Regions from separate parts of the Homo sapiens genome. Here regions 1, 2 and 4 are each linked to region 3. Evidence: fine-mapped expression QTL. A gene starts in region 3. Each other region holds a variant in brackets. All regions are shown on one strand. Distances are from middle to middle. Region 1 has its middle 93 kb from the start of LINC02421. Region 2 has its middle 41 kb from the start of LINC02384. Region 3 holds the start of LINC01479 (long intergenic non-protein coding RNA 1479). Region 4 has its middle 28 kb from the start of LINC02442.

Evidence for each region. PIP is the estimated chance that this variant, and not a neighbour inherited with it, causes the effect.
Region 1: its variant is the best candidate, but not a certain one, in a credible set for the expression of LINC01479 in skeletal muscle (FUSION, PIP 0.62).
Region 2: its variant is the best candidate, but not a certain one, in a credible set for the expression of LINC01479 in prefrontal cortex (CommonMind, PIP 0.60).
Region 4: its variant is the best candidate, but not a certain one, in a credible set for the expression of LINC01479 in blood mononuclear cells (TOPMed, PIP 0.78).

Annotation. Positions count from the first base shown.
Region 1 is chr12:67,819,726-67,824,881 of GRCh38, reverse strand. No RefSeq gene overlaps it. Among named protein-coding and RNA genes, the nearest start is that of LINC02421, 93 kb to the right of the region's middle. The variant A/T (reference allele first, on the strand shown) is at 2,423.
Region 2 is chr12:68,490,325-68,495,480 of GRCh38, reverse strand. No RefSeq gene overlaps it. Among named protein-coding and RNA genes, the nearest start is that of LINC02384, 41 kb to the right of the region's middle. The variant G/A (reference allele first, on the strand shown) is at 2,598.
Region 3 is chr12:67,926,874-67,932,029 of GRCh38, reverse strand. It overlaps LINC01479 (long intergenic non-protein coding RNA 1479), which reads right to left and starts at 2,795. Exons shown (of 3, transcript NR_120456.1): 1 at 2,643-2,795.
Region 4 is chr12:67,615,844-67,620,999 of GRCh38, reverse strand. No RefSeq gene overlaps it. Among named protein-coding and RNA genes, the nearest start is that of LINC02442, 28 kb to the right of the region's middle. The variant T/G (reference allele first, on the strand shown) is at 2,595.

The sequences.
Region 1 (5,156 bases), 110 kb after region 3:
GGTAAGGATTTGGGCTAAGTATAAAATGTTTGAAAAGAAATAGACCAAAAACAAAACATTAAAAGGATTTTGAAGGCTATTTATCTACCCTTCCATTTTAAAGATGAGGACACTGAGATAAAGATTGCCTTGGCATACAGCTCAGTAGCTATGGGACTCAGGCTGGGCTTAATTCCTTCTTTACTACACTACTCTGTTACAACTCTGCAAAAAATAAAGATAATGGACTCATTGACCAAGCCAGAGTTTGTATCAGCTAGGGAAATTAGAATATTTTGCTGTAATTCACTGGTGGATCCTTTGATCTATGAAAATCCTATCATGTTTTACTTGACTACTGTTCAACTTTGGTATGTAATATGTTATAACCATGTATTGTTTTGTTAATTGAATGTGGGGAAAATTAGTTTAATTATTGAATGAACCATTGTGCCCTGTGGCCCCATGAAACCTCAGCTAACCCATGCATCTGCTTTTCTTCCCCTAACTATAATTCATTTGTATAGCCAATGATGGGACTTGGCTCCACAGCCCTCAAAACTTGGGGTTTTCCCATTGTGTATTTATTTTATTTTTGGGGCCCTCAGATATTTCAAATCATTAACATCATCCTTCAGAGACTGAGAATTGATTATTACAGAACATTAATAACATATTAAGGTCTCAGGCTTCACTTTCTCCTAGGGTTGTAAAAGGCTACTGTTTAATTACAATGAGTTTCATCCTCAAAAAAATGTCCCCTTGTGATAGATATCTACAACAGCCTCAGAACGCGCATTGTCTCGTGTTTAAATATATCCCCCCAAAGCATGCCATTCTCTTATCCAAGAGTTCTAAGAAATATTTCATAGCATCTCAATGGCACTGATTTGGTCACAAGTCTGCCTCTAAACAAATCACTACAGACAGGGAAATATGAGACCTTGTGTGGCCACACATGACTTAGATACCATCCCTAGGCCAGGGTTGATGACAGCTACACTGTGTGTGTATATATATATATACACACATATATTTGTATATACATTTGTATATACATTTGTATATGTGTATATATGTATATACAAATATATGTATATATGTATACATATATGTATATATATACACAAATACTATTATACACTATTATATATATTATATATACACTATATATTATATATACACTCTATATTATATATAATATGCTATATATATTTTTAATATATATATATAAAATAGATTTCCTGGTGTATAGTGTGTGTATATATAGTGAGAGTGGCAAGTGGTGGATCCCCATTGAACAACTGGGAATTGGGAATGAATTAGATTTTGATAAGCCAAAAACTAATGAATATCCACTATTCTAGGGAAGGTCACTGAGCCTTGAGTTGTCAGGATGACAAGACTAGAAATCTTTAGTTAGGAAAGATGAAGGCTGAGAGAGCACCTAATGGAAGTCTTTAAAACTGTACACAATTTTGTATGAATGAAAGTCAAATCCTTAGATATTAAAATGAGAATACCACCTTTAAAATTCTGAAAGGTATTTTAGCAGTGAGAATTGCTATTTCATGTAAAAAGCAATATTTTTGTAGAATTCTCTACCATCAAGAGGCTATACCTCTAAAAAATATAATTAATTCAAAAGATTCAGGAGAAATAAAGCCTAAATTAATAATGAAGAAAAGGAATAAAACACCTAAAATGCATGTTTAAGTTCAGAACATCCAAGACTCTCATGACCCCCTCTGAAAACAAAGTTAAATGACCCTCTTGAGCAATCCATGTACTCTCCTGGATAGTCCCCCAACCTCATTAACCTAGTTCAACTCAGCAAGCATGATGGAAACATTTTTACATGCAGTTTTAAATCCCTGAAAGAGTTTTAGGGATTAAGCAAAGCAGAGACATGCAACCAGTCTATAAAGAAAAAGCGCTTTCTATTGTATCATTTCTACAGCCAACAGACAGAAGAAAATGCAGCTGTAATCTGCATAAGAGAATCAAGAGGGTAACACAAACATGTTTTAAAATTCAAGGATCCAAAAACAAATCAAATAATTGTGTATTAGAGCTAAACAATTATATTCAGATTTTTTATTTTCTATTTTTAAAATTTTTCCAATTTATAACTGATAGTTAATATAATTGTTCTTCAATTATATTACCATTTACATTAGAAGACATAAAATATTATAGAATATTCATAGCCTTATAACTGACTATTGGATAAGTAAAGAACTTCAGCTTCCTTTTCATGTGGCTCTCCTGAAATGAAGGTCTGATAAAGTTTCTGATTCATTCATTGTAATTTATTTCATCAAAAAAGCTAGAAATCCTTAAGAATGTAAATGCGTCCTTTGAGCAGGCTTTCATTCTCCTTTATTTTTTCTTGGGGTATTGTGCTTTCCTGGTAATTGGGCCACTGAGGAATGATGAAAAG[A/T]ATGATCTATTTCAACATTTGTGGCTCATTATAGGCACTGAGGGACAAAGTTGAAATAAAAGGTCATAATGAGATTGAATTGTTCTTCAAGCTTGTCATAGATAGGAATAGAGGCATACCTTGGGAAAAAAAATTGTATAGAAATAGAACTTTTTAAGTTACGCAAAATGCATTGAGAATGTGCATTTAAGGCAAATAAATGTTTTCAGGGATATCAAGTGTGGTTCCAAACTGTGGAAGGTAATTTGAAATAAAATCCTTTTTAAAAAATGTAGACATTACATTTGTAGAAATTTGGGATCCATGAACCCAGGATCCTTCTTTTTCTTAATGGATGTGGCGTCAGTGTGGGAGAAGGTGCTTGATTTTTTTTTTCTGTGCTCATTAACAGTGATCAAACGTATAACAACATGAGTAAAGCCATACACATACTTGCTCATTCATTAAACAGCTATTCATTGGGCTCATTCTGTGTGCTGGAAATACAGCATTGGGTGATATAAAGTCTTTGCCAAGTGGGGAGTCTAGTAGGAAGACAGAAATTAAATTTAAAATATTAAATTAGGATTGTAATAAGTGACACAAAGGATAAGCAAGAGTGTGATTGAAATGTCCAACTAGGATACCAAACGGGTGAAAGGAGTGACACTGGATTGCATCTTGAAGGGAGAGTGAAATTGATGGGTGGGGCGAGTGAGGGGCAGGACTAACGGCAGGAAGGGACAGCAGTGATATTCTAAGCAGAGGGAACTATGTTGCTGAAGGTCCTAGGTGGAGTGGGATTGAGGAATGGAAGTGGAGAGGGAAGCAGAGGCAGAACACTACTCCTTGAAGCATAATAATCTGAAGCTTTATAAACCAAGAACAACGCACATTAGTGGGAGAGCTTTTAAAATGCATGCCACTGCATTTCATTTTGAAAGTTATCCTTTTCCACAGTTAGAGGAATCAACTGGAGAGGTATAATCACAGGTACATGGAGACTATTTGGGTGCTCATTGCTATGGTCCGAAACCAGATGGTGGTGGCTTGGCCCACTAGGGATGGCAAAGTTAATGGACAGCAATAGAAGGATTTGGAAGATATTTAGGAGGCAGAGTCAAGAATACAATGGATAGAGTGAGGTAGAGTGAGGTGAAAGTGACCCCCATGTTTCTAGACAGGATGGATAGAGGGGAGGGGATCCCCAACATAGGGCACATCAAAAGCAAAGGATGTCTTTTAAAGACTGAATTCTGGAAATGTTGTTAGTCTCATATCCAAGCAGAGATAAGGAGTTGACATGTGGGTCTGGAATACAGAGGAAAAGTCTAAACTAGATAGATTTGCAAGTTTATTTAACAAACTGACTTGGAAACACTCACTTTTACCAGTCACTGTCTAAGCACTTTATCAATACTAAATCATTTAATCTTCCTAACAACCCTCTGAGGCAAGTACAGTTGTTAGACTTACTTACCTACAAGAAAGCTGAGGCCCAGAATTCTTAAAATCACCCGGGTAGGAGTACAGAGCCAGGATTCAAACCCGGAGAGTCTGGCTCCAGAGTCCACATGCTGAACCGCTAGGCTTCTAGACAGTACGCAGGAATCGAATGGGTGTGGGCGAGTAAGAGAGATGTAGAATAACAGGAGGAGAGAACAGAGGCTTGAGGAGGTCAAACTTTTAAATCAGCAGAGGAGAGTAAATTGGTAAAGTGGCCATATCACTTCCACAAATCCATAAGACCCATTTGTCCCAAAATGTTTGTCCGGCAAGGCCTCACCCTTTCAAGGCAGCTGAGCCCACTGAGGAGTCGCATGATCATTCATCTCTATTAGTCTGGACACCCTCACAACCAGACACAAAGTCTCAGAGATTTATCCTGTTTGAAAAGCCGGGACAGATCTACCACACCGCTTTCCAGGTTCTGAACAACTGTTTCTCCAAGGCTAACTCTTTTGCCAATAACTTGACTTGTATTATTTTTAGTGAAATATCATGTAACAAGCTGCTCCTAAAATATTTCCAGCTCAGAGTGCTGGAAGAAAAAGATCAAAAAAGAAGAAGGCTGGAAGCTGAGAGTGACAGTGGAAAAAGAAAAGGAATAATGGAAAAGGAAGGCAAAACAAAACAAAATAAAAACAAAAATTGTTGAAAGAAAATATGATCTTTTAAATTGAGAAGGGTGAAAAGTTATTAACACGTCCCAGTCAATTTTAATTTCAAGGAATGCACACCCAGCCATGCCTGCAACTTTTCTAATTAAGCAGTTACCCAGTTCATTTTCAGTGATGTTCGTTTGCTCTCACTCATTGTGGACTTTCACAGTAACCCCTGGCATCAGAAAGCAGTGTGGTGTAATGATTACAGGTACAGGCTCTGGAATCAGTGCCATGTGTGTGTGAGTCCTGACTGCATTATGTGTTAATTGTGTGATTTCAGGAAGTTACTTATCTACTCTGTCTGTTTCCTCAACTGTAAAATGTGGATGATGATATCTATTAATAAATTCTACTTCATATTGTTCATATGAAGAAGAAATATTTGAAATAGTATTTGACTTAGTATAATATATACCACTCAAAAAATTTTTGTTAAACTTCTTTTTTTTTTTTTTTTTTCTGAGATGGAGTCTCGCTCTGTGGCCCAGGCTGGAGTACAGCGGTGCAATCTCGGCTCACTGCAATCTTCACCTCCCGGGTTCAAGAGATTCTCCCACCTCAACCTCCCAAGTAGCTGGGATTACAGGCGC
Region 2 (5,156 bases), 560 kb before region 3:
GCTATGATCTCATACATAACAGTGATATCTATATAGAAAAGGATAATTGAGGAATTACCTGGTGAATTCAAACAACAGCGTCAGTCACAAGTGATAATTCAGATAGTATTTTGTTTTGTTATCTTTTATTGTTAAATTTTTTTATTGTTATTATTTTTTAAGAAACAGAGTCTTACTCTGTCGCCCAGGCTGGAATGCAGTGGCCTAATCATAGGTCACTTGCAGCCTCGAATTCCTGGACTCAAATGATACTCCTACCTTAGCCTCCTGGGTAGCTGGGACTACAGGCATGTGCCACTATGCCTGGTTAATTTTCTTTTTCTTTCTTTTTTTTTTTTTCCCCCTTGTTAATTAAAAAAATTTTTTTTGTAGAGTTGAGTTCTGGCTGTGTTGCCTAGGCTGGTGGAAAACTGCTGCCCTCAAGTGATCCTTCTGCCTTGGCCTCCCAAAGTGTTGGAATTACAGTGAGCCACTGTGCTTGGCCTGTTTTGTTACCTTTTTAGAGCAAGATTATCTGTCTAAAGAATTAAAAAATTACCTATACTTATTTCAATGTATTTTGTCTGAAGTATTTCTGGGAGATGCATTGAACAGGCCACATTGGGATGAAGTGTGTTTGTTAGAATAGTAAGATCTGGCACATGGCTGGTCATGTCAGGTTTTTGCTGGATTATAACTGCTTGAGGACACAAACTGTATCTTATTTATCTTTGAATCCCTCTGGTGTCTTGAATGTAGTAGGCATTCTCTAAATAGTTATCAAGTTGATTGAAATTCATTTTGTTACGAAAATAATTTCTGGGCCTCCTAGGAATCAGACAGTGTTTGAAAAATATATCCCTCAATGCTCATTATTACATTTGGTTTAGTTTCTCGTGGGGACCCATATATGTTATTGAAACATAAAATATATCTGTAATAGGAAAATATGGATGTGACAAGAAAAGTAGCAGCAAAAATTGGGCAGCAACCTTTGGTAAATATGAGTAAAATCGATGCAGACCTGCTGACCTAACAGAATTCTTACAGATTTAGAGTTTTTGGAAACTGTTTCCACGGTTCTTGTACATTATACAGTTTGTCTTACTTTTCTCTTTTGACAGTTTTATTATTAAGTAAGCCAGAAAATGAGATGAGGAGATGCTTATCTCTCTCTCTCTCTCTCTCTCTCTGTGTGTGTGTGTGTGTGTGTGTGTGTGTGTGTGTGTGTGTGTGTAAACAAGAAGCCAATACAATTTCATCTCAATAAGATGAGCCCTGCTTAGGAGGATAATGACCATTAATTGAGAGACTAATATGTACCAGGCAGTCTTTAAATACATTAACATAGTTAATGCATACAACAACCCTATGAGGTACCTGTTATTTCCATTTTTAAAGTTTATAAGCTGATGTTCAGAGATGTTTAATAATTTTCTCAAGCTCACATAGTTAGTGGCTGAGCTGGGATTCACACCCAAAACTCTTTGACTAGTGAATCAGTTTTCTTCCCCTGTATTGTGCTTGACACAGAGGAGGCACCCACGCACGCTTATTCTTAGCAGTGTCAAAACATCTTTTTTTTGGGGGCACCATTTGTCTGTAATTATTACCTGTAGAATCTTTCTTTGAGCCTTAAAGCCAGATTAAGGCTTTGCTTATGTACAGCAGTAAAATAGTCCAATCTTAGCTTCCAGTACTGGCGATATTTTCTGGAAAGTCGGTAACTGGACAAAAGTGAGTCACTTTGAATAAAAGAAAAAAAGTGAAATAGGGTGTTTAAATAAATAAATAATAAAAAGTGAAATAACATTTTCATGTGTTTGCTTCTACTCAGAATTCAAATTGCTCAATTCGTTGCATTAGGAAAAGACAAAGGATTAAACACCCTCATATAGTTTTTGAGACAAAGTCTGGCTGTGTCGCTCAGGCTGGAGTGCAGTGGTGCAATCACAGCTCACTGCAACCTCTGTCTCCCAGGTCAAGCCATCCTCCCACCTCAGCCTTCTGACAACTGGGACTGCAAGTGTGCACCACCATGCCCATGTCTGGCGAATTTTTGTATTTTTAGTAGAGATGGGGTTTTGCTATGTTGCCCAGGCTGGCCTCAAATTCCTGACCTCAAGTGATCCGCCCTCTTTGGCCTCCCAAAGTGCTGGGATCACAGGTGTGAGCCACCGCACCTGGCCTCACTTTTTAAACTATTGAATTAGTATCCTAGAGTTTTTACTTTCAGGCAGTAATAAAGACACCCTATGGAAGAGCTGCAGGTGGAAGAGGTTGAGAAGGATTCTGTGTTTCATGAGTTGATATAGGGGTCAAGGTAGTATTTTGTCTGGGGAGGAGAATGGCGATATAAGAGAAGCATGAGCTAGTTTCTAGTCAATCTTCTTTCCTATGCACACAGGATAATTACAAAGTTAAAATTAAAAGACAATTTACCTATCTGACTTTTTTGTTTCAGTGATGTCACACTCAGAAGCAGTTAAAATAGCAGATAAGGAAACCCCTGGGTCTGTTGAGATCTAAACAACCTGTTTCTTTGTTGTACTATGTACCAGGTAAGGTGGTAAACAAAAGAAGCACAGTTCCAAACCTCATGGAGCTTATATAGTCAA[G/A]GCATGGAAAGGCAATATTTTCATATAATAGTATGTAAGAACTTTCAAAGAGACATTGCAGTCAAAAAAGATTCAACTCCAAGGGTGAAAACTTGCCTCCAAAAGGCTCCTGGAGCCAGGCTACGGCTGGAAGTGTTCAGAGGGACTGTGGGAAGACAAGATAATTGAAGGAAAAATAAGGGCTCCAACTAGTTTAAGGTATTGACATCAGCAGGAGATTGCACCGCACCTAACTGGGGTTACTGGTGTTATTAAGCAATACAGACTGCCTGGGCATTAAAAACTGACTGGAGTGGGTACCATAGTGGTTTAATGCAAACTACCTTCATTGGTAACTTGAGGTAGGTATATCTGAACTCTAGCAGCTGATCACATCCACTTTCTGTGAAAAGGCTTTCATAATACTTTTTAAAAAATTATTTATTTATTTAGGTACCAGTAACAGCACATAAAATTAATCATTTTAAAGTGAATATTTTGGTGGCATTGAGTGCATTCACAATGCTGTGCAACCGTCACCTCCAGTTCCATGACATATTCATCACTCCAGAAGGGAACCCTATAGGTGTTAAGTAGTTGTTTCCCATCCCCCTTTCCGCCTGTGCCTCATATCTACAAATCTGTGTTCTGCCTCTGTGGATTTACTTTTGCTGCATACTTAATATAAATGGCATCATACAATAGGTAACCTTTTGTGTCTCACTTTTTTCACTTAGCATAATGCTTCTGAGGTTCGTCCATGTTGTAGCATGTATCAGTACTTCATTCCCTTTTATGGATGAATAATATTCCATTATATGTATACACCACCTCTTGTTTATTCATCCACTGGCAGACATTTGAACTGTATCTCCCTTTTAGTTATTGTGAACAGTGCTGCTGTGTACATGGGTATACAATACATGTACTTGTTTGAACACCTGTTTTTTAATTCTTTTGGCACTATACCTAGGAGGGAAATTGCTAAGTCATATGGTAATTCTACGTTTAATGTTTTGAGGAACACCAAACTACTTTCTCCAGTGGCCAAATGACTTTACCTTCCAACAGTATATTAGAGTTTCAATTTCTCCATATCCTCCCCAACACTTGTTTTTTGCATTTTTTGATAGCCATCCTCGTGGGTGCGAAGTGGCACTTCATTGTGGTTTCGATTTACATTTCCCAAGTGACTAATGGTGAGCATCTTCCCATGCTTGTTGGCCATTTGTGCATCTTCTTTGGAAACATATCTATTCAAGTCCTTGGGCCATTTAAAAAATCATGTTGTTTGTGGTTTTTTTTGTTGCTGAGTTGTCATAATAATTTGTGAGCCATGTAGTTTAACTATGTTATGTTCAAATCCAACACCCAGAGCTGTCTTAGCGATGGGCTTGTTGGGAGGTGTGGGCAGGGAGAAGGAACATAGGAGAGGTGGAATTTCGTGTGTGGGTGAAAGGGGGTAACGTCAAGATTCACCTTCCCTCATAACTCAGAAGAGGAAGTGCTAACTCTGGCATGGCACTTTGATGGATTTGCCTTCCTAGAATCTGTGATCTCAACTTCATTCTCACCGTCAATGTCTGGCTTAGTAGTAAAGATCTACCATTTTTGAGTGCACTGCACACAAATTATCCTACTTAAGCTTCATAGTCATGCTGGTTGGTGCTATTATTTTAATTTTGCAGATTACAAAAATTGAAGCTTGGGGAGATTATGTAACTGGTCCAAAATCACAACTAGGGCAGGGTGCGGTGGCTCATGTCTGTAATCCTAGCACTTTGGGAGGTTGAGGCTGGCAGATCACTTGAGGTCAGAAGTTCAAGACCAGCCTGGCCAACTTGGTGAAACCCCGTCTCTACTAAAATACAAAAAATTAGCTGGGCGTGGTTGTGCATGCCTGTAGTCCCAGCTACTCGGGAGGCTGAGGCAGGAGAATCACTTGAACCCGGGAGGTGGAGGTTGCAGTGAGCTGAGATCAGACCACTGCACTCCAGCCTGGGGGACAGAGCAAGACTCTGTCTCAAAAAAAAAAAAAAAAAAAAAATCACAACAAGATGGAGGTTGAATGAGTAGAATTCCTTTCTCCCAGATCCATGCCCTTTCTCTGTTGCTCCATGGATGGCTCGCCACTTGTTTGTCTCATTACTGCAGCCTCCTAACCTTTCTCCCTTTCTTCAGTACCACCTTCTTCAGTCAGTCCTCTGCACTGCTGACATTGGCATTCTTTCTTAAACATAAATCTTATCATGCTACATCTCTGCTTGAAGTCTCTTAATGACTTGTCATCCTTCAAGATCCACTGTTTTCTCTTTCAAGTTACCATCTTTTGCTTCCCTCATTTGTGCCCTACTTTACAGTCCTGTCAAACTACTCCCAGTTTCTTGAATCTGTCAAGCTGCTTCATAACCTCATGCTCAAACATAGAGTTCCCTCTGCCTGGAATGTATTAAAGGTCCCTCCTCACCCACAGTACATTATGAATCTTTCCCCCATGCCATAAAATGCACAAATATTGGCAAATGAGGTAGTCAGGGGAAAAGAAAGAGAGGAAGCTGTCGTTATTTACTTACTTTACCT
Region 3 (5,156 bases):
AATGAAGCTGCCTGCTGGCACAGGATGCCTTCGCCAGCAAGACCAGGAAAGGACAGTGTTCAGGACCCAGCTCAAGCCAGCAGTGGAATATCTGTAGTGAGGAATGGAAGCTCACTGCCCCAACAAAAGTGATGCTGCCACTCAACTCAACCCAGATATTGAATTGTTTCAGTTGTCCAAAGTAACAGTATTCTTTGTGGGCCACTGTGACATGGTAAAACATTTTGTTCCTAGCAGATGGTATAAACTTAGTGAATGTTTGCTGAATTTACTCATTCACTTATTCATTCAAAAATACCTATGAAACTTCTATTTTAGGCCCGACACTATTTTAGAGTATAGAAATATAGTCATGAACTAGATAGGCAAGTCCTTGAAGTCATGGGTTTCTATTCTAGAAGGGGAGTCAGATACCTAAATAAACAAGCAGAATAATATTAGGTAGTGACAAGTGCTTATCATTAGACTTATCTAGAATGATGTTTTAAATACAGTGGTCAGGGGAGTGGTATTTGAGGCCTGAATCATAAAAATTAGCCACCTACCCTAGGATCCATACAAAGAGAACCTCAAGTGGATTCAATAACATGTAATGCTTGCTGATTTGTTCTATCCCTTAAGTAAATCTTATTCTAATATACTTCATTCAAAATAGTTGTTGAACATGTTCCATATTCCAAGTAATGTGTTAGGTGCTAGGGATATAAAAGCAAAGCCATAGCCCCTGCCTTCAAGGAACTGATATTCCAATATGGAGATCCAGAGGTGTGAACAATTACAATAAAAAGTGAGAACTGCCCTGATGATGGAGGCATGGTCAGTGGGAGATTTCTTGAAGAAGTACCTTTATTGTAATGAAGATAGCAAGACTATCTGTGTGTTGGGAAAAAAAATGTCCAGGGGTGTCTCATGTTTCTGCAAGCCTTGTCAACAAAGAGACTTTTATTTGGGACTGCCTTCCAAGAATATTTGTATGGTGAACTTCTTGGAGGTTAGAGGTAGCGTGCCTCTCTCAAGCAGAGAGATTTGTTTCTTAACTAGGATACTAAAAAAAAGGTTTCCTTCTAAGGAAAAAGTTGGGCAGGTTTCCTTATAGCCTCTTTAAAAGCTTGTAGTTTCCTAAGCTCGGGGTTTTTCACCTTTGGTGCAAACCGACTGCGTTTGCAGCATCTACCTTGGCCACCCCCTAATGCCCCATAGGATTTGGAGGACAAGAAGAACCTACATGAATATTGGAGCTGATGCTGCTTGCTGTGCCATGAGTGATAAAGTCCTCTGTGTCTGACTCAGGAATCTGTGTCTTCTGCAAGAATCCATGCAATTGTGGCGGCTCCCTTGTTAGCTTGGAAGCAGACAAAACTTCACACCCTTAATCATTCTTAACATGGTGACAATATTAAAATTATTTCAGGTTTATGAGCTTTATTTTTCTCAGTGGAAAACTTGGGATAAAAATTCTAACTTCACAAACTCATTGTAAGAGACAAATGGAAGGTCATAGGTGTAGCAGAGATGGTTAGCTATTCCCTAATATATGTTCTCTCTCTCTCTCCTCTAACATAGAAATTGTAGTGTGACAAAGGCTACCAGACTGACTAAAACATCTCCTAGCCTCGTTTGCAGCTAGCTGTGATCAAGCAATAAAGCTCTGTCAATGGGGTGTGAGCAGAAACACAACTTGCAGATGATGCTCTTGCAAGGAAGGAAAATTCTCTCCCCTTCACCTTCCCTCCTTCCCATTGCCTGGAATACAGACACAGTGGTAAGACATCTTGGAACATTTGGATGGGAAACACCCTACACATGGCAGAGCACTAAAACAAAAGGAACCTGGAGCCTCTGTCCTCTTGCTGTCACCATTCAAGTCCTGGACTGCAAATATACAGACTGTCACATCAGAAAAAACTTCCCGTCTTGTTAGAGCCACTCCTATTTGGCATGTTTATTGAAGAAATGAACTGGTATTCTAATGAATGGAGGAATGAGAAGATCCGAGTGAGGGATTAGAAAGATGCTATTGGTGATGGTAGAGAAAAGAAAATAGAGCCAGATAAATTAGGAGGGAGATCACCTAGCTGCCAAGTAATGGGTTATTTTTCAGAGGTTTTGAATGTTGGCAAATCTTTAAGTCTTACCTGGTCTGTGGACTCTTACAAGAAGTTTGAATTCCATAGTCAAATTAGGAACACACTGACTTAAACATAATTCTTTATTATAGGTAGTACAAGTGTTTTCAGCACTAAAAGATTTTATGCCTCTTAAAAGAGAGGGCTGAAAATAAAGTATTCCTCATACTTATCTGAAAATGAGACCTTTCATCTAAAACTAGTGTTCATGGCCACTAGAGGACACATGATCCAATGCCTATGGGATTTAAAGACGTCTCCCAGCCCTCTTAGAAATTTGTAACCTGCAGTAACACCCAAATAGTCAACAAAGCAATTCACAAAGGTATTTGTCAGATAGGATGAAATAGACATGTGTGCATGACACATACACACCCTTTTCCAAACCAGAGCCAAAAGTTGCAGATACACCAGAAACCATGCGGTATCAATTTTCCCCTCTAAAGAGTTCAGCTTTGTTTTTGTTCCAAGGTGTGAATGAATAGCACAAGGACTGAAAAGGATAACAGTTCCTACCTTGATTCCACTTGAAGATCTTCATGAAGAAAGTCCTTGCTGGAACCTGAGCAGACTGAATACTAATTTCTCTTAGCAAGACATTACACTGCATGGTGGATGGCCTTCTTGCTCAGGAAGTTCATGACAATCCAAGAGGCAAAATGAAAGGAGGCAGAACAGAGCATGTAAAGTCAGAATCTTGTGACTTTGGCCCTGAGAGTGTTTGATCTGGCAGGAACTATTTTCCATGAGTAACCGAGTCCTGTATAGCACTTATGGGATCAAATGGCAGTATAAATTGGATCAACAGTTAATGTCTTAATTCTCTCCATGACCAATGTGAGGAAAAGTAATTCTATTTAAATCCTTCATAGAAAAATACTTCATGCAGAATCCTGGGGGGAAAAGAATTAAAAATTGTGATCTCATGTCAAATATTCCTGCAGTTTTCTCAACAGTACAGTTAATCCTTTGGGCTGGCAAAAGCAGGTTTTCTTTCATTATTTTGGTCTGTATTGGCAACGAAGTTATTAGGTGCAAAAGAAACACACACAGAGATGTCACACCACACTTGACACTGTCACTGTGGTGACAAGGTTTTCTCCAGCTGTCAGTGTCAGAAGGATTTCATTCTGTTTGATGCCACACGGTTTTGTGGTGAGAAGTGGCAGGCAAGCCCTTTTATTCCTTGTAATGTCTTCATTAATAATAGCAGTCATCAATTACCAGAGAAAAGGAGTACAAAATAAATTGTAAACATTATAACCTGGGGTCTTTATGGAGGATCTTTTATATTGTTTCATGGAATTGGAGGTGAATTCAGCAATAGGATTTTTGAACTCTGGAAAGATAGGGGGAAGCTTCCATTTCTTATATGCATGTTGGTCACATAAGACATCAGTCTGTGTGCACAGTTTCCTCATTTTCTTCAATGGTCTGGGTCATTACTTACCCAACAATCTGAAAAAAAAGTACAAATTATGTGTCTAAGTCTATACAATGAGAAGGTGACTTCTTTTTAAGAGCCATGAGAACTTCTCAGAATAAGAATCTCTTTTACAAACCAGTGGAAATCTATCAATCTTAGTTTGGGGGATACCAGGTAAGGTTTCTTCTTTGTAGGGTTTCTGGAGCTTTTAATGAGATGATGCATTCTGTGAAGCTTTAAGGGAAAAAGAAAATATACAGTTTCCTGAGTTTGTTTCATCACAGAAACATTTGTTATGGGCCTAGATAGTTCCATGAAACCTCTATTTTGGAAAGGCTAAAGGAATTAGTTAATCCATTAGCTTTTATATCTAATAAGCACATACTGTGCCTACAAAGAAACAAAAGTTTTCAAGAAACGCCCTCTTAACCTGGCAGTCGGACCAAAGTCCACATTCTTGGTGAGGAAGTTAGGCCTAACAATGTTTTAGCAGAGATATAATTTGATCCTTGGGACTATTTAAGAATACAGCAGTAAAAGTTGCTTACTTTGAGCTGTGGCAGAGATGGGCTGCAGGATTTGTGCAATTCTCATCTCACTGGTTGGAATTCTCTTCTCTCCTATTTGAGAAAATACAGTGTGAAAAAGTCACGTTCCTGCAAGGGTAGAACTCACAGTCTCTAAAATATGACCTAGTGATTCAAAAAGATTGGTACTTTGCTGTTTGACAACATTTTTCAGTGAACCATCACACTTTAAAATAGCCCTGTATAGAGCCCTGACTCCAAGGATCCTGAAAGTATCCCAGAGAGGCTTTTACCATTGGTGGGTGTGTGTGTGCAGGCGTGCATGTGCAAATTCACCCACATGTACAGGCTCTGGATTAGAGGCCGGGAGGAGAATCCAGAGAAGGAAAAACAGACCACACCTCCCCGAAGTCTTCAAAGCTGGTAAGAATTCCCAAGACAGCAGTTCTTTTGAAGCTCCCCACATGCCGTTTTATGGGTTTTTGGTTTTCAAATTAACATAGACTATGAACACCAGGATTTAGCCTCATGGATTTTTGCCCTATGCTATAGAGAAGTCTTCACTTGGCATCTTGGTTTACTGCCTGTGGGAAAATATGACAGGCAATTATAATGTCCTTTTAGTTATAAGCTGAAGTAGGAGTAATATTTTAAAAATATATAAAGCAAATATAGAGGCAGCTTAGCATAGCAGTTAAGAATAGAGATTCTAGAACCATTTTGCCTGAGTTTGAACCCAAATTCTGTGCCCTTGGGCAAATCATTTAAATGTGCTATGCCTCAGCTTCCTTGTCAGTAAAATGGGTCTGATTACAGAACCCCCCGCAGACTGTCATAGGGTTACGTGAGTTCATATCTGGAAAGCTCTTAGAATAGTGCCTGATACTTAATAAATGTTTATTACATTTTAAAATATTTTTAAATATGGTTTTCAGCCAGGCACGGTGGCTCATGCCTGTTATCCCAGCACTTTGGGAGGCCAAGGTGGGTGGATCACCTGAGGTCAGGAGTTCAAGACAAGCCTGGCCAACATGGCAAAACCCCATCTCAACCAAAAATACAAAAATTAGCTGGGTG
Region 4 (5,156 bases), 310 kb after region 3:
AAGAAGCAACCAAACAATGCTATTATACTCATTAATTTTTAAAAAAATATTTGAAAATCTCATATACAGAGTCATCTATCTTCTTATTTCTTATAAATGGTGGATCAGGAGTATTCAATGCAGATATTTTCTATCTCTATAACTAGTTTATGCAATGGAGTATCAGTGCTCTCTTTAGAATTGGAAATAGTCATTAACGTCATTAATGTAATGGTATTAGAAAGCCAATTCCAGAAACCTCAGAACCAAATCAGAAAACTCATCCTTAAAATTCTGTTCCTCTAGAGCCACTTTTCATCTTTAGGGTTTATTAGTTTGTATTATTCTCCAGAGAAACAGAACCAATAGGAGATATATATATATATATATGTATATATAAAGAGAGAGAGAGAGAGAAGGAGAGATTTATAAAGGGATGTATTATATATATAAAACACACACACATATACACACAACACACACACACACATATATGTGTATATATAGAGAGAGAGAGAGAAAAAGAGAGAGAGAGATGTATTATGACGGATTGGTTCATGTGACAGGCAAGCCGGTGGTGTAGTTTCAGTTCAAACCCAAAGATCTGAGACCCAGGGGGGCCAATGATATAAGCTCTCGTTGAAGTCTGATGGCTCAAGAACAAGGATTGTTGATGTCCAGGGGTAGGAGAAAATGAAAGCCCTAGCTCAAGCAGAAAGAACAAATTTGCCCTTCCTCCTCCTTTTTTATTCTATCTGGGCCCTGAACAGATTTGATGATGCCGACCCACATTACAGAGGATGGATATTCTTTACTTCTTTCCTCTTTATTTCTATTGATTCAAGTGCTAATCTCTTTCAGAAACTCCCCTACAGACACAAGCAGAAATAAGCTCTACCAGCTTTCTGGGCATTCCTTAACCCAGTCAAATTGATGCAAATTGACTATTACAGACACCCTCCTTTTTTTTTTTTTTTTTTTTTTTTTTTTTGAGACAGACTCTCACTCTTGTTGCCCAGGCTAGAGTGCAATGGCATGATCTCGGCTCACTGCAACCTCCACCTCCTGGGTTCAAGCGATTCTCCTGCCTCAGCCTCCCAAGTAGCTGGGACTACAGGCACCCACCACCATGCCTGGCTAATTTTTGTATTTTTAGTAGAGACAGGGTTTCACCATGTTGGCCAGGCCAGTCTCGAACTCCTGACCTCAGGTGATCTGCCCGCCTCAGCCTCCCAAAGTGCTGGGATTAGAGGCATGAGTCACCATGCCAGGCCTACAGACACTCTCTTACATGCTGCTAGTATATAGTCATTGAAGACAGAGATTATGTTTTCTCCCTCTTATATCCCTGCTGTCTAACACATTGCTGATACATAGCCCATGACTAATAAATGTCTATTTAATGAACAAATAAACAATATTGTCTATATTATCACAAAGGTGATATAAGACTAAATTAGCTTACATGCTTTTTCTAGATAGCCATTCAAATACCATCTACAGCATACTTGCCATCTGTATTTTTTCTTCAGAATTTTTTTTTTTTAGATAGAGTTTTGTTCTTGTTGCCCAGGCTGGAATGCAATGGTGCGATCTTGGCTCACCACAACCTCTGCCTCCCGGGTTGAAGCAATTCTCTCCTGTCTCAGCCTTCCAAGTAGCTGGGATTACAGTTGCCCACCACCATGCCTGGCTAATTTTTGTATTTTCAGCAGAGACGGGGTTTCACCATGTTGGCCAGGCTGGTCTCGAACTCCTGGCCTCAGGTGATCTGCCTGCCTCAGCCTCCCAAAGTGTTGGGATTACAGGCATGAGCCAAGGTGCCCAGCCCCTTAAAGACATTTTTAACTAATTTCACAAATACTTCTTGAATATCTACTATTTGCCAGGCACTGTTTTAAGCTGCTGAGACACATGTTGGTAAACAACAATCAAAACATTCCTGCCCTACTGTAACTTGCATTCTAAAAAGGTAACTGATAATAAACATAATAAATAAGTCTTTCCATATGATTGGTGATCATTGTTATGGGGAGAAAAGCAAAGCAAGGTAAGGGGGCTCAGAATTGACAGTCTGATATTGTGATAAAATAAGAAATATATGTTTGGTCTCTGCCCCTGGTTTCTGGCACAGAGCTTCTAAAACTTTTATAATTTCCTGAGCAATCGGGATGCTAGAAGAATCTTTTGTTCTAATATTTGGTCATTGGTCACATTCCTGACAGAATCTTAATCTCTTGGAATTTCCTGGGTGATAGGAGTGTCTTTTGTTCTAACGAGGTAACTTTTGATGGGCTCTTGGATGGGGACTCTTCACCAGAAAGACCAAGCCTTGATCAGAAACTTGGAACTTTCAGTACTTCCTTTATCCTTTGGGAAGGGGAGAGAGCCTGGAGATTCAGGTAATAATCAATTACACCTTCATAAAAATCCCTGAACTCTGAGCTTCAGGGAGCTTCTGTGTTGTTGAATGTGTAGAGGTGTGAGGAAGATGGCATGACTGGAGAGGAACTGAAAGTTTCGTGCCCCTTCCCACATACTTCACCTCATGTGCCTCTTCCTCTGGTTATTCGTCTGTACCCCTAGTAATATCCTTTATAATAAATGGGTAAACA[T/G]AAGCAAAGTGTTTCCCTCATTTCTGGGCTCACACACAAAAAAATGTGCTGTTCTAGCAAATTATTGAACCCCACAGGGGATTGTGGGAACCTCCGATATGTAGCTAGTTGGTCAGAAGTATAGAACAGAACCTGAGACTTGGGATTGGTATCTGAAGTGGAGGGCAGTTTCATGGGACAAGCTCTTAACCTGTGGGGTCTGCAGTAACTCCAGTTAGTGTCAGAATTGAATTAAATTATAGGACACCCAGTTGGTGTCTGCTGGTGAATCGCTTGGCGTGGGGGAAAATCCCACACATCTCAGTGATCAGAAGTGATCTGTGTTGAGAGGATAGCAGGAGAAAATAGTCATTTGTTTCTTCCTTACTGTTCTTGTAAAAGAGGGTATAGGTTGCAATTTGAAATAAAAGAGTCAGCTAGGCCTCACTGAGAGGGTGACATTTCAGTAAGTATTTGAAGGAGTAAGCAGGTTTGCCCTGCGAGTGTCTTGGGGAAGAACACCCAGGCAGAAAGAACAGCTAATATAAAGGCCAGATAGTTTACTTATTCCAAGAATGCCACAGAGGCCAGGGTGGCTGGAGCAGAGAGAATGAAGGGGATAGAGAAGGTGAAGGCAGGGAGGAAATGGCAGAGATGAGCACGCTGGGGAAAGGCTGTGTAGGGCCTAATTTCTATTCCAAGTAAAACAGTGAGCCGGTACAGCATCCTGGGCAGAGAAGTAGCATGATTTGGCTTACATTTTGAATAGATAGGCCTATTTGGGGAACAAGCTCTATTTTAGTAAATAAGAAGATGATCTTTTTAAATTGGTAGTTTCCTTGTTCATATCCCCTGAATACTTTCTCGTGCAGCCAATTCTGTGCCAAATGAAAAGTCTCATCCTGTATGTATGTCTGAATCTTATCTAGGATTTCTCAGCCAACTTATCTTGGCACACAGGAACATTATGACCTGTGGCTAGGAATTTCTCAAAATTCACAGCCAAGCTGATATTTAGGATACTGTCCTAAGATGGAATAAAGAAAAAAATGTAACTTAAATTCTGATTTTAAATATTACTTTAAATGAGTTCTTATAACAAGGGACACAAGATTCAGGATGTGATATAAGAATTTATAATTATAGCTATATAATGGTCCTACAAAATGTTACTGCCTCTTTGAATCAAATGTTCTATGTGGACCTTTGGAATAATAACAACATTCAAGAGATCATCACTTCTGGATTCTTGTCAATTTTTACCGAATCAAAAGGCAATGAGTAAATTTATTAGAATTGGTCATAGAAATGTTTTGACACCAGCCAGAAGGGAAAGTCACATAGGGGCTATTTCAAAAGCAAACTGCAGAAAACATTTTATATAAGAAGACCATAAATGGCTAATAAATCTGATAAAAACGTTTTAGCTGCCCTAGTAACCAAAGAAATTTAAAGTAGTAATGAGATACTTAAAGTGAATTTAAAAGAGGAGAAAAAACAAGGAAAAGGAAAAATAGAAGAATATTAGAATATTTGGGTGAAAATATAGGCATTTAGTGAGACACGGTCTTGAACTGCTTGGGAGTGGGAATAGGGAAATTCTCACATTGCTGATATTTTCAGTGGATCAGAAAAGCAATGTGACAGTACAGACTATAAACATAAAAAAGGATCGCATATTCCTGTACTTTTTACTCCTGGAAAAGTTTCTTTAGAAAATAGTGGAAAAAAAAAGTTGAATTGCAGCATTATTTTAAATACAGAAAAAGTATATACCTTGCAAAAGAAGGAAGGTTAAACAAAATATTTTAAATCCATATTGAGAAATGTTATATAACATTAAACATTCTATGAAAAAATTAATGATGTGGGGAAAATACTTACAACATAATGAGACATTTGATGCAAACAAGGTTCAGACACATGGTCTCGGTCATGTACAAATAATATGTGATAGAAATGAAAACTAAGTGGAAATATATAATTGGGAACAGCGATTATCTTTGAATGGTGAGGTCCTACAGGGGTTTATTTTTTATTACATTTTTATACATAGCATTTATAATAAATATGTCTAATATTTCTAATGTTTTTCTATTTTAATAAAAATTATGTATTTTAATATATAAATCTATGTAATATTTTCTGTATGTAAACTTTCAACATTATTTTTAAATAAAAAAGAAATATATTCAGAGTATAGCTAAGCAGTTGAAAAATAGCGAAATCTTTCGACCTAGCCAATGGTATAAAATAAATATAGGGATACACTATAGACCAAATACCTTAATTAAAGACAATAACCAATTTTCTAGATGCCAAACCAATGCCATCAGTTTGCTGTTAATCTGCATAAAATAAGTTAGTAACAGTCTATTTGCTGCTAACTATAGAATATTTTAACATTTACCAAATTATTAATGAGACTGGCTTTATAGTGACCCTTAAGATGGACTAGATCTTAAAAGCACTGTTGTTAAAGAATAGATTCACAGGACAAATATTTCAAGTAAAAGTCAACAAGAAAAAAAATGTATATGTAAGCATCTAAATTTTATATACCTCCAGGTGTCCTTACAAGGA